2 separate regions of the Homo sapiens genome follow, and region 2 is linked to region 1. The links come from fine-mapping of genetic effects on gene expression. Tissue or cell type: liver. Region 1 holds a variant in brackets; the other region holds the start of a gene. All regions are shown on one strand. Distances are between the middles of the regions.

What was found. PIP is the estimated chance that this variant, and not a neighbour inherited with it, causes the effect.
Region 2: CTPS2 starts here. The variant in region 1 is the best candidate, but not a certain one, in a credible set for the expression of CTPS2 in liver (GTEx, PIP 0.52).

What each region holds. Positions count from the first base shown.
Region 1 is chrX:16,742,061-16,746,298 of GRCh38, forward strand. It overlaps SYAP1 (synapse associated protein 1), which reads left to right. Exons shown (of 9, transcript NM_032796.4): 5 at 1,641-1,780. Among named protein-coding and RNA genes, the nearest start is that of SYAP1, 25 kb to the left of the region's middle. The variant G/A (reference allele first, on the strand shown) is at 1,975.
Region 2 is chrX:16,710,386-16,714,623 of GRCh38, forward strand. It overlaps CTPS2 (CTP synthase 2), which reads right to left and starts at 2,284. Exons shown (of 19, transcript NM_175859.3): 1 at 1,950-2,284. RefSeq lists silencers at 1,737-2,006, 2,067-2,156.

The DNA.
Region 1 (4,238 bases):
GTTCAAATGATTCTCCTGCCTCAGCCTCCTGAATAGCTGGGACTACAGGCATGCGCCACCATGCCCAGCTAATTTTTGTGTGGTTTTTTTTTTTTTTTTTTTTTTTTTTGAGACAAAGTCTCGCTCTGTCACCCAGCCTGGAGCGCAGTGGCACGATCTCGGCTCACTGCAACCTTCTCCTCCCAGGTTCAAGCGATTCTCTTGCCTCAGCCTCCCAAGTAGCTGGTATTACAGGTGCCCGCCACCACGCCCTGCTAATTTTTGTATTTTGAGTAGAGACGGGGTTTCACCATGTTGGCCAGACTGGTCTCGAACTCCTGATCTCGTGATCCACCCTCACCTCAGCCTCCCAAAGTGCTGGGATTATAGGCGTGAGCTACCACACTCAGCCTAATTTTTGTGTTTTCAGTAGAGACAGGGTTTCACCATGTTGGCCAGGCTGGTCTCGAGCTCCTGACCTCAAGCAGTCCATCTGCCTTGGCCTCCCAAAGTGCTGGGATTACAGGTGTGAGCCACCATGCGCTGCCAAAATTTTTAATTTAATTTGTTTTGTTTTGTTTTGTTTTTGTTTTAAGAGACACAGTCTCAATTGGTCATCCAGGATAGAGTACAGTGGCATAATTATGGCTCACTGCAGCCTTGAACTGGGCTCAAGTGATCCTCCGGCCTTAGCCTTCCAAGTATCTGGGACGATAGGCGTAAGCCACCATGCCCAGCTAATTTTTAAAATTGTTTTTAGAGATGGGTTCTCACTATGTTTCCCAGGCTGGTCTCGAACTCCTGGCCTCAAGCGATCCTCTTGCCCAACTTCCCAAAGTGCTGGATTATAGCCATGAGCGACTACACCCTGTCCGCTTCTATTTTTTTTTTTTTTTTTTTTTTTTGAGAGTCTCACTGCACTCCTGCTGGTCAACATAGCAAGACTGTCTCAAAATAAAGAAAGAATATAATATTTCCCCAGTCTATGATAAATTGTTATGTAGTAGGCCAGGTGCAGTGGCTCACACCTGTAATCCCAGCACTTTGGGAGGCCAAGGTGGGTGGATCACTTGAGGTCAGGAGTTCGAGACCAGCCTGGCCAACATGGCGAAACCCCATCTCTAGTAAAAATACAAAAATTAGCCAGGCGTGCTAGCACACACCTGTAATCCCAGCTACTCGGGAGGCTGAGGCAGGAGAATTGCTTGAACCCAGGGGGCAGAGGTTGCAGTGAGCTGAGATTGCACCACTGCATTATAGCCTGGGCGACAGAGCAAGACTCCATCTCAAAACAAAAATAAAATTAAAAAAAAAGAGTGGGCGCATTGGCTCACCCCTGTAATCCCAGCACTTTGGGAAGCCGAGGCAGGTGGATCACGAGGTCAGGAGTTTGAGACCAGCCTGGCCAAGATAGTGAAACCCCATCTCTACTAAAAATACAAAAATTAGCCAGGCGCAGTGGCGGGTGCCTATAATCCCAGCTACTCGGGAGACTGAGGCAGGAGAATTGCTTGAATCCAGGAGGTGGAGGTTGCAGTGAGCCGAGATTGCACCACTGCACTCTAGCCTGGGTGACAACCCGTCTCAAAAAAAAAAAAAAATTGTTATCTATTAATCGCATTTTGTGGAATACCCTGTGTTTTTTTCTTTTTTTATCAAAGGACAAGAGGAATTTCCTTCGTGACCCTCCGGCTGGCGTGCAATTTAATTTCGACTTTGATCAGATGTACCCCGTGGCCCTGGTCATGCTCCAGGAGGATGAGCTGCTAAGCAAGATGAGATTTGCCCTCGTTCCTAAACTGTAAGCAGAGTGTTCTCCAGCGTTTCCTCATGGCCTCCATTATGTGCTCAGTATCAGCACATAATGATGGAAGGGGCCAAAAGGGTCTCTATCTGTTCATAAAAGCAGGCCCCGCAGCCCTTTGGCAGCTCCCCTGGTCAGGGCACTCTGGAATCAAAACCAAGGTCTGACTTGGCAGGAAATACAGGGTAGAG[G/A]TGAAATGTGCTTTTCTATCCCAGTTACAAGGTAGAACACATTTCCCTACAGAAACCACAAACATGCTGCATCACCCTGAATCACATTCTGGTCTCTGAGGCTCATCGGGATCTTTTTTCCAAGCTGACTGCATTTTCCATTCAGGCTCTGCCCTCCAGTGGCAGTGTTCCTGCTCTCTTTGCTAAGGCTTTTCCTCCAACAGCTCTTCTGGGCTCCACAAATCCCAGCTTGTCCTGTAGGCTCCAGTGCATGCATGATGCATTCTGGAAGCCTGCCTTGGTGGTGCGGCCAACAGGGGCCACCTTCCCCGCTGCTGCTTCCCTTGGGTGTTCTGTCTCAAGCTCTTCCGTGCCTTCTCCAGTCCAGTCCCTTGTATTGAAGCTGTCGCATGTTTGGAGTCAGCGTTCCTTCTTATTCTGTCATTGTTCCCTTTCTCTTAACCTTGTCATATGGGTGCAGTATCTTACTGTTCCCTGAGTACGTTAGTTACAGTTCTCTCAAAAGACTCCTTTTTCAGCTGGGTGCGGTGGCCAATGCCTGTAATCTCAACACTTTGGGAGGCTGAGGTGGGAGGATCACGTGAGGTTGAGTTCGAGACCAGCCTGGGCAACATAGCAAGACCACCATCTTTACAAAGAAACCAAGAATTAGCCGGGCGTGGTGGTGTGCACCTTTAGTCCCAGCTACTCAGGAAGCTGAGGCGGGAGGATCATGTGAGGCCGAGTTCGAGACCAGCCTGGGCAACATAGCAAGACCACCATCTTTACAAAGAAATCAAGAATTAGCCGGGCGTAGTGGTGCGCACCTTTAGTCCTAGCTACTCAGGAAGCTGAGGCGGGAGGAACACCTGAGCCTGGGAGGTCGACGCTGCAGTGAGCCATGATCACGCCACTGGCATTCCAGCCTGGGCAACAGAGTGAGACCCTGTCTCAAATAAAAGACAGACTCCTTTTTCTATGCTGTTTCCTCCCTCGGGACTCTTTTGTTTGTTTGGGGATCTGTCGTTTATGTGGCAGACTCTCCTTACCTGTCCCTTCGCATTAGCAGTGCCATACTGAAAGGGTACATGGCCGCTGAATGTGGGGACAAGCCTTTTGGCCTGGAGAGGCTCAGTAGCTGTGGGAAGGTAGCTTATCCCCAGAGGACTCCTCGGCCTCCTGCCTGGCTGCAGGCAGGACAATGGGAAGAGCCAGTTGATAGGCAGACTATCCCTTGACCCCTGTGGCTTGACCTTGATGTCACACCCCCAGTCTCAACTGTGCCACCGGTCCCTGAGTGTAGAGCAGCTTGGCTCCCCTCCCCACATGGGCAGAGCAGGGCAGGGCAAGATGGGAGGCCCAGGGGCTCTCTGGGCTTCCACCCTTGCTGCAGACAACTCAGTACAGTTTTCTCTGGTCAACGAAGTAGACTACTGTTTGCCTAGGCCGGGTGCAGTTGCTCATGCCTGTAATTCCAGGACTTTGGGAGGCCAAGGCAGGCAGATTGTCTGAGACCAGCCTGGGCAAATAGTGAAACCCTGTTTCTACTTAAAAAAAAAAAATACAAAAAATTAGAGCCTGGTGTGGTGGCACATGCCTGTAATCTCAGCTACTCGGGAGGCTGAGGCAGGAGAATTGCTTGAACCCGGCAGACAGAGGTTGCAGTGCACCAAGATCGTACCATTTGCACTCCAACCTGGGCGACAGAGTGAGACTCTGTCTCCAAAAAAAAAAAAAAAAGATTACTGTCTGCCCTTGACATTTCCACTTGACAGCTTTCCACTTGACTGCCCTTGACAGCGTCCACTGTCCTCTCCTCTCTCATTCTCTTTGTCCTTGTGTTTTTATGTATGTAATTCCTTTTCTGTTACTTTCCTGGCATCTTCAGAGGGAGCACAGATGAACACATGTTTGTTTTGCTATGCTTACCCAGCCACATAGCGGTTTTAACAAATATTTGCTAGCCTTTTGGTTCACACAGCAGCACAGGTTTTCTGTCTGTGAAAACACCACTCTGGAAGTGTTCTTCCAGACTCAGAATAACAGTTATATGGAATCTTTTTTTCTTTGTAGTGAAACTCTTCCCTCCATAATTATTAACATATTAGTGGTAAATTTCTAGAGCCCTCCCCAACCCTCCCATAAGAAAAGTATGTTTTATGGCAAAAAAAAAAAAAAAAAAAAATCTCATTAGAAATTTCATCTTTAGACTTTGTCTTTTTTCTTTCTTTTTTTTTTTTTGAGATGGAATCTCACTCTGTCGCCCAGGCTGGAGTGCAATGGCG
Region 2 (4,238 bases), 32 kb before region 1:
AAACCTATGATTCAATAAATTATTATGCTTCTCTCTTGTTAATCTGTCTCTTGTTTAAGGCTGTCAGCCGTGACCCTTATGATATCAGCTCTTTCCTCCCCTACATAAGCAATTGCTCATTTTCTGTTTTTTCAAAAACACAAGATACCTTTTTAAAGCACCTTGGATATTTTAGAGACCTTTTGTAAAAATGCAACTTAATACCAAGGGGACACCTAATTCTTCCTACTTTGTTGTTGTTGTTGTTGTTTTGAGTTGGAGTCGCGCTCTGTCACCAGGCTGGAGTGCAATGACACGATCTGGGCTCACTGCAACCTCCGCCTCCCGGGTTCAAGCAATTCTCCTGCCTCAGCCTCCCAAGTAGCTGGGACTACAGGTGCATGCCACCATTCCCAGCTAATTTTTGTATCTTTAGTAGAGACAGGGTTTCACCATGTTGTCCAGGATGGTCTTGATCTCTTGACCTCGTGATCCGCCCACCTCGGCCTCCCAAAGTGCTGGGATTACAGGCATGAGCCACCATGCCCGGCCCTCTACTTCTTTTAAGCACACAAGTAAGTTTAACAAAGTTTCAAAGGTTCAGGGAAAGGCTGGCCCTGTTTTAGATCACTTCCTCCATTGAGGATTGTTTCTGGTGTCAAGACAAGTTTTTCATTTACTCTTACATGCAGTGAGCAGAACCAAGTGTTTATAGGATAGCACAGTGTAGAGCTGTGCTGTCTCCACTACCTAATAAAAAATATTACACAGCCAGGTACGTAATTTTAAGTTTCTAGTAGCCATATTAAAAAAGTAAAAAGAATCAAATGAAGTTCATGTTAATATATGTTATTTAACCCAATGTAGCCAAAAATGTTATCACTTTTAACGCACAATGTAAGAATGTATTAGTGAGATATTTGACATCTTTTTTGTGTACTAAGCTTTCAGAAATCAGGTGCCTGTACTCAGAGCACATCTCAGTACGGATTTTGCCACATTTCCAGTATTCAATAACCACATGTGACCAGTGGCTCCCACATTAGACCAGGCAGGCCTAGAGCAAATAAAAGCACCGGAAGCACCCAGAGACACCTTCTCAGTGATGGCCATTTAAAAAGTAATGTTAGACACAAAAGAGTACTTACCTGATGATCTTGTTCTATGAAGTTCTAGAACAGTCAAAGCTAAGCTATGATAACAATCAGAACCGGGGTTGAGTGCGGGGCCTGGGGTGGATTGACAGAAAGGAGGTACCAGGGAACTTTGCAGGGTGAAGGAAATGGTCAATGTTCACTTTGGGATAATGGTTACAGGAGTGTATAATTTGTCAAATCCCGTCGATTTGCACACTGAAAATGGGACATTTTGTTGTATATAAACCATACATACAATTCTTTTTTATGTTGCCCCCAAAAAAGCTATTCTGTAGCAGCAGCGTAGTTCGGCACTATGCGCCCTAACCATCTAGTACGGGGAAAACGCGGGGGTCGTTGTTTAAGGGGTGCACTGGGACCGGGGAGAGGACAGAAAGGCCATGTTACCGGCGCTGATCACCAGCCTCGCAGACCCCCGCTCGGGGCTTCACTTCCGCCAACGCCATCTCAGGGCTCTCCTGGCTCCCGAGGGCCGGGAGAAGTGGGGATCCGGGTGCGGGCGCTGGCGCGGGCGGAGGCGGGAAGAAGCGCGTCCCGGGGACGCGCGGGACAGGCTCCAACCGCACTGGGCACGGGCCAGCGTTCCCCAGTCCCCGCGCCACACCCGGCAGCCGAGGTCTGCGAGCGCGGGGCTGGCGGCCGGACCCGACTCAGCGCTGGGCAGGGAGCCGGCGCCATCAGAGAGCGGACAAAGGAGCCCGGCCCCACAAGTGCACCGGGGCTGGGGGTGCAGGGCGGAGAGGCCCTGGGGACGAGGGATGGCCCGGGCGCCGAGGCCCTGGGGGTCTGGGACAGGCCCAGAAGGGAAGTTACCTGCGCGGTGGTGGTAGCACCGGGGAGGGTGGCCGGTGGGCACGGCGGGCTCCACCCCGCGGCTGGCCTGGCGCTCACCTGTCGGGCTGGGGAAGGGGTCGCTGCCGGGGCTGTCCAAAGCCGCCCCCGGGATCTTCCCACCGCCCACACGGGCCTCGGGGTGCGCGGCGCCCTCCTCGCCCACCTTCCCCTCTCCTCCCTGCTGCTGGCCCAGCTCACTCACGCTGGTGAGCTTGGGGTTTGCACCCGGGTTTGTGCAATGGTCCAAAACAAGCGCCTAAAAAGTGATTCCTCCAGCACAGGCAGCTCCCGTCACCCTCCGCTCTGGACGCACTGGGCCCCAGGCCTCGCCCAGCCCGGGGACCGCTCCTCCCTCCCGTGGCTCACTTTGCAAAGGCACTTCGAGTGCGCGGGTGAACTCCACGCTTCCCGGGGAACCCCGGCTTCCTGGCAAGCCGAGACCCTCGCTCGGGTCCTCCCGTGCAGATCTCACCCTTGTAAAGAACTTCACTGGTCACAAACGCTTGTGGATCCCCTACTACGCCCCAGGAACTGCAGGAGCGCTCAGGAGAGAAGGAAAAGGAAAGAGAATGCCTGCCTTTGAGGAGCTAGCTCACAGTCTGGTGGGAGGTCCACCCGTCTGTTGGAACCAGTAAGGTTCCCTAGAACAATACTTCTGCAGCAAAGAGTTGCGGGGGTGCAGTGAGGGGAGGAAGGCAATTAAGGCTTCCAAGAGTGACTTTTTTTTTTTTTTTTTTTTTGAGACGGAGTTTCGTTCGCCCTTTTTGCCCAGGCTGGAGTGCAATGGCGCGATCTGGGCTCACTGCAACCTCCGCCTCCCGGGTTCAAGCGATTGTCCCTGCCTCAGCCCCCGGAGTAGCTGGGATTACAGGCGGATGCCAAAAAGCTCGGCTAATTTTGCATTTTTAACAGAAACGGGGTTACATCACGTTGGCCAGGCTGGTCTCGAACTCCCGACCTCAGCTGATCCTCCTGCCTTGCCTCCCAAAATGCTGGGATTACAGGCTTGAGCCACTGCACCCCGCCCAAATACTCTAAAAAGTCACTCTTCGGGTGACTCACGCCTGTAATCCCAGCACTTTGGGAGGCCAAGGCAGGCGGATCACCTGAGGTCGGGAGTTCGAGACCAGCCTGGCCAACGTGGTGTAACCCTGTCTCTACTAAAAATGCAAAATTAGCCAGGTGTGGTGGCACCTGCCTGTAATCCCACCTACTCCGAAGGCTGAGGCAGAGAGAATCGCTTGAACCTGGGAGGCAGAGGTTGCAGTGAGCCGAGATCAGGCCACTGCACTCCAGCCTGGGTGACAGAGGAGACTTTGTCTCAAAAAAAAAAAAAAAAAAGAGTATTGGAGGATGATTGGTGCTGGGAACGGATACAGGAGGTTTTTCGGGTGAAGGCAAGAAGCCAACCACTGAAGGAAGCTAACATGGACAACAGAAGGGTCTGAAGTGAGATGGAAGGTTTTAGGAAAGTGGTGGAAATTTCGCATAACCAGTGTGAGATGCTAGAGCGACAAGTTAGACAAGAGTCACTGAAGACCTAGTGGAGTTTAGAAACCATCATCGTGTAGTGGTGTCCAGCTATAATCTGCTATAATCTGGCAAGGTATCTACAGAAATATAGCTCTTAGTTATGAAACCCAAGTTTCCTGCTTGCATAGAATAGAAGGACAAGAGGGTGAGGAGGTGGAGGGCACAGAAAGACTGCGATTGCAGTGATGGGCCAGAGCTCTAGTCCTAGAGGACAGGAACTGTTAATAAAACCAGCGGGGAGCTGATGGACTGGGAGACAGATGAGAGAAGGGCTCCAAGGCCAGGGCCTCTGAGGAGAGGACTGGCAAACTGGCAGCAGAGAGTGTGGTGCTGGAGTTCAGGCCTTCAAATGGATATTCCAGGAAATGAGACAGTTTGGGGTGTGGCAGCTACAATGGAATAGAAAAGTGAGATGGGCATCACTGGCCTTGGGTTTAGTGCCCACAAGGCTGGTATGTTGGACATCGAGGGTCCCAAAAGGATGGCAGGAGGTGGAGGAGTCAATCGAGGTCAAGGAACTTTAGAGAATTGGGGTTGCGGGGTGGGTAGTGAGCCTGAAACTAATAGATGACTGTGACAAGGAAAGGGAGAAGGTTGCAGAACAAATGTCAGTGCCTTTCAAGACACAATGGAGGCCTGGCGCCATGGCACACCCCTGTAATCCCAGCACTTTGAGAGGCTGAGGCAGGCAGATAGTTTGAGTCCAGGAGTTGGTGACTTACCTGGACAACATGG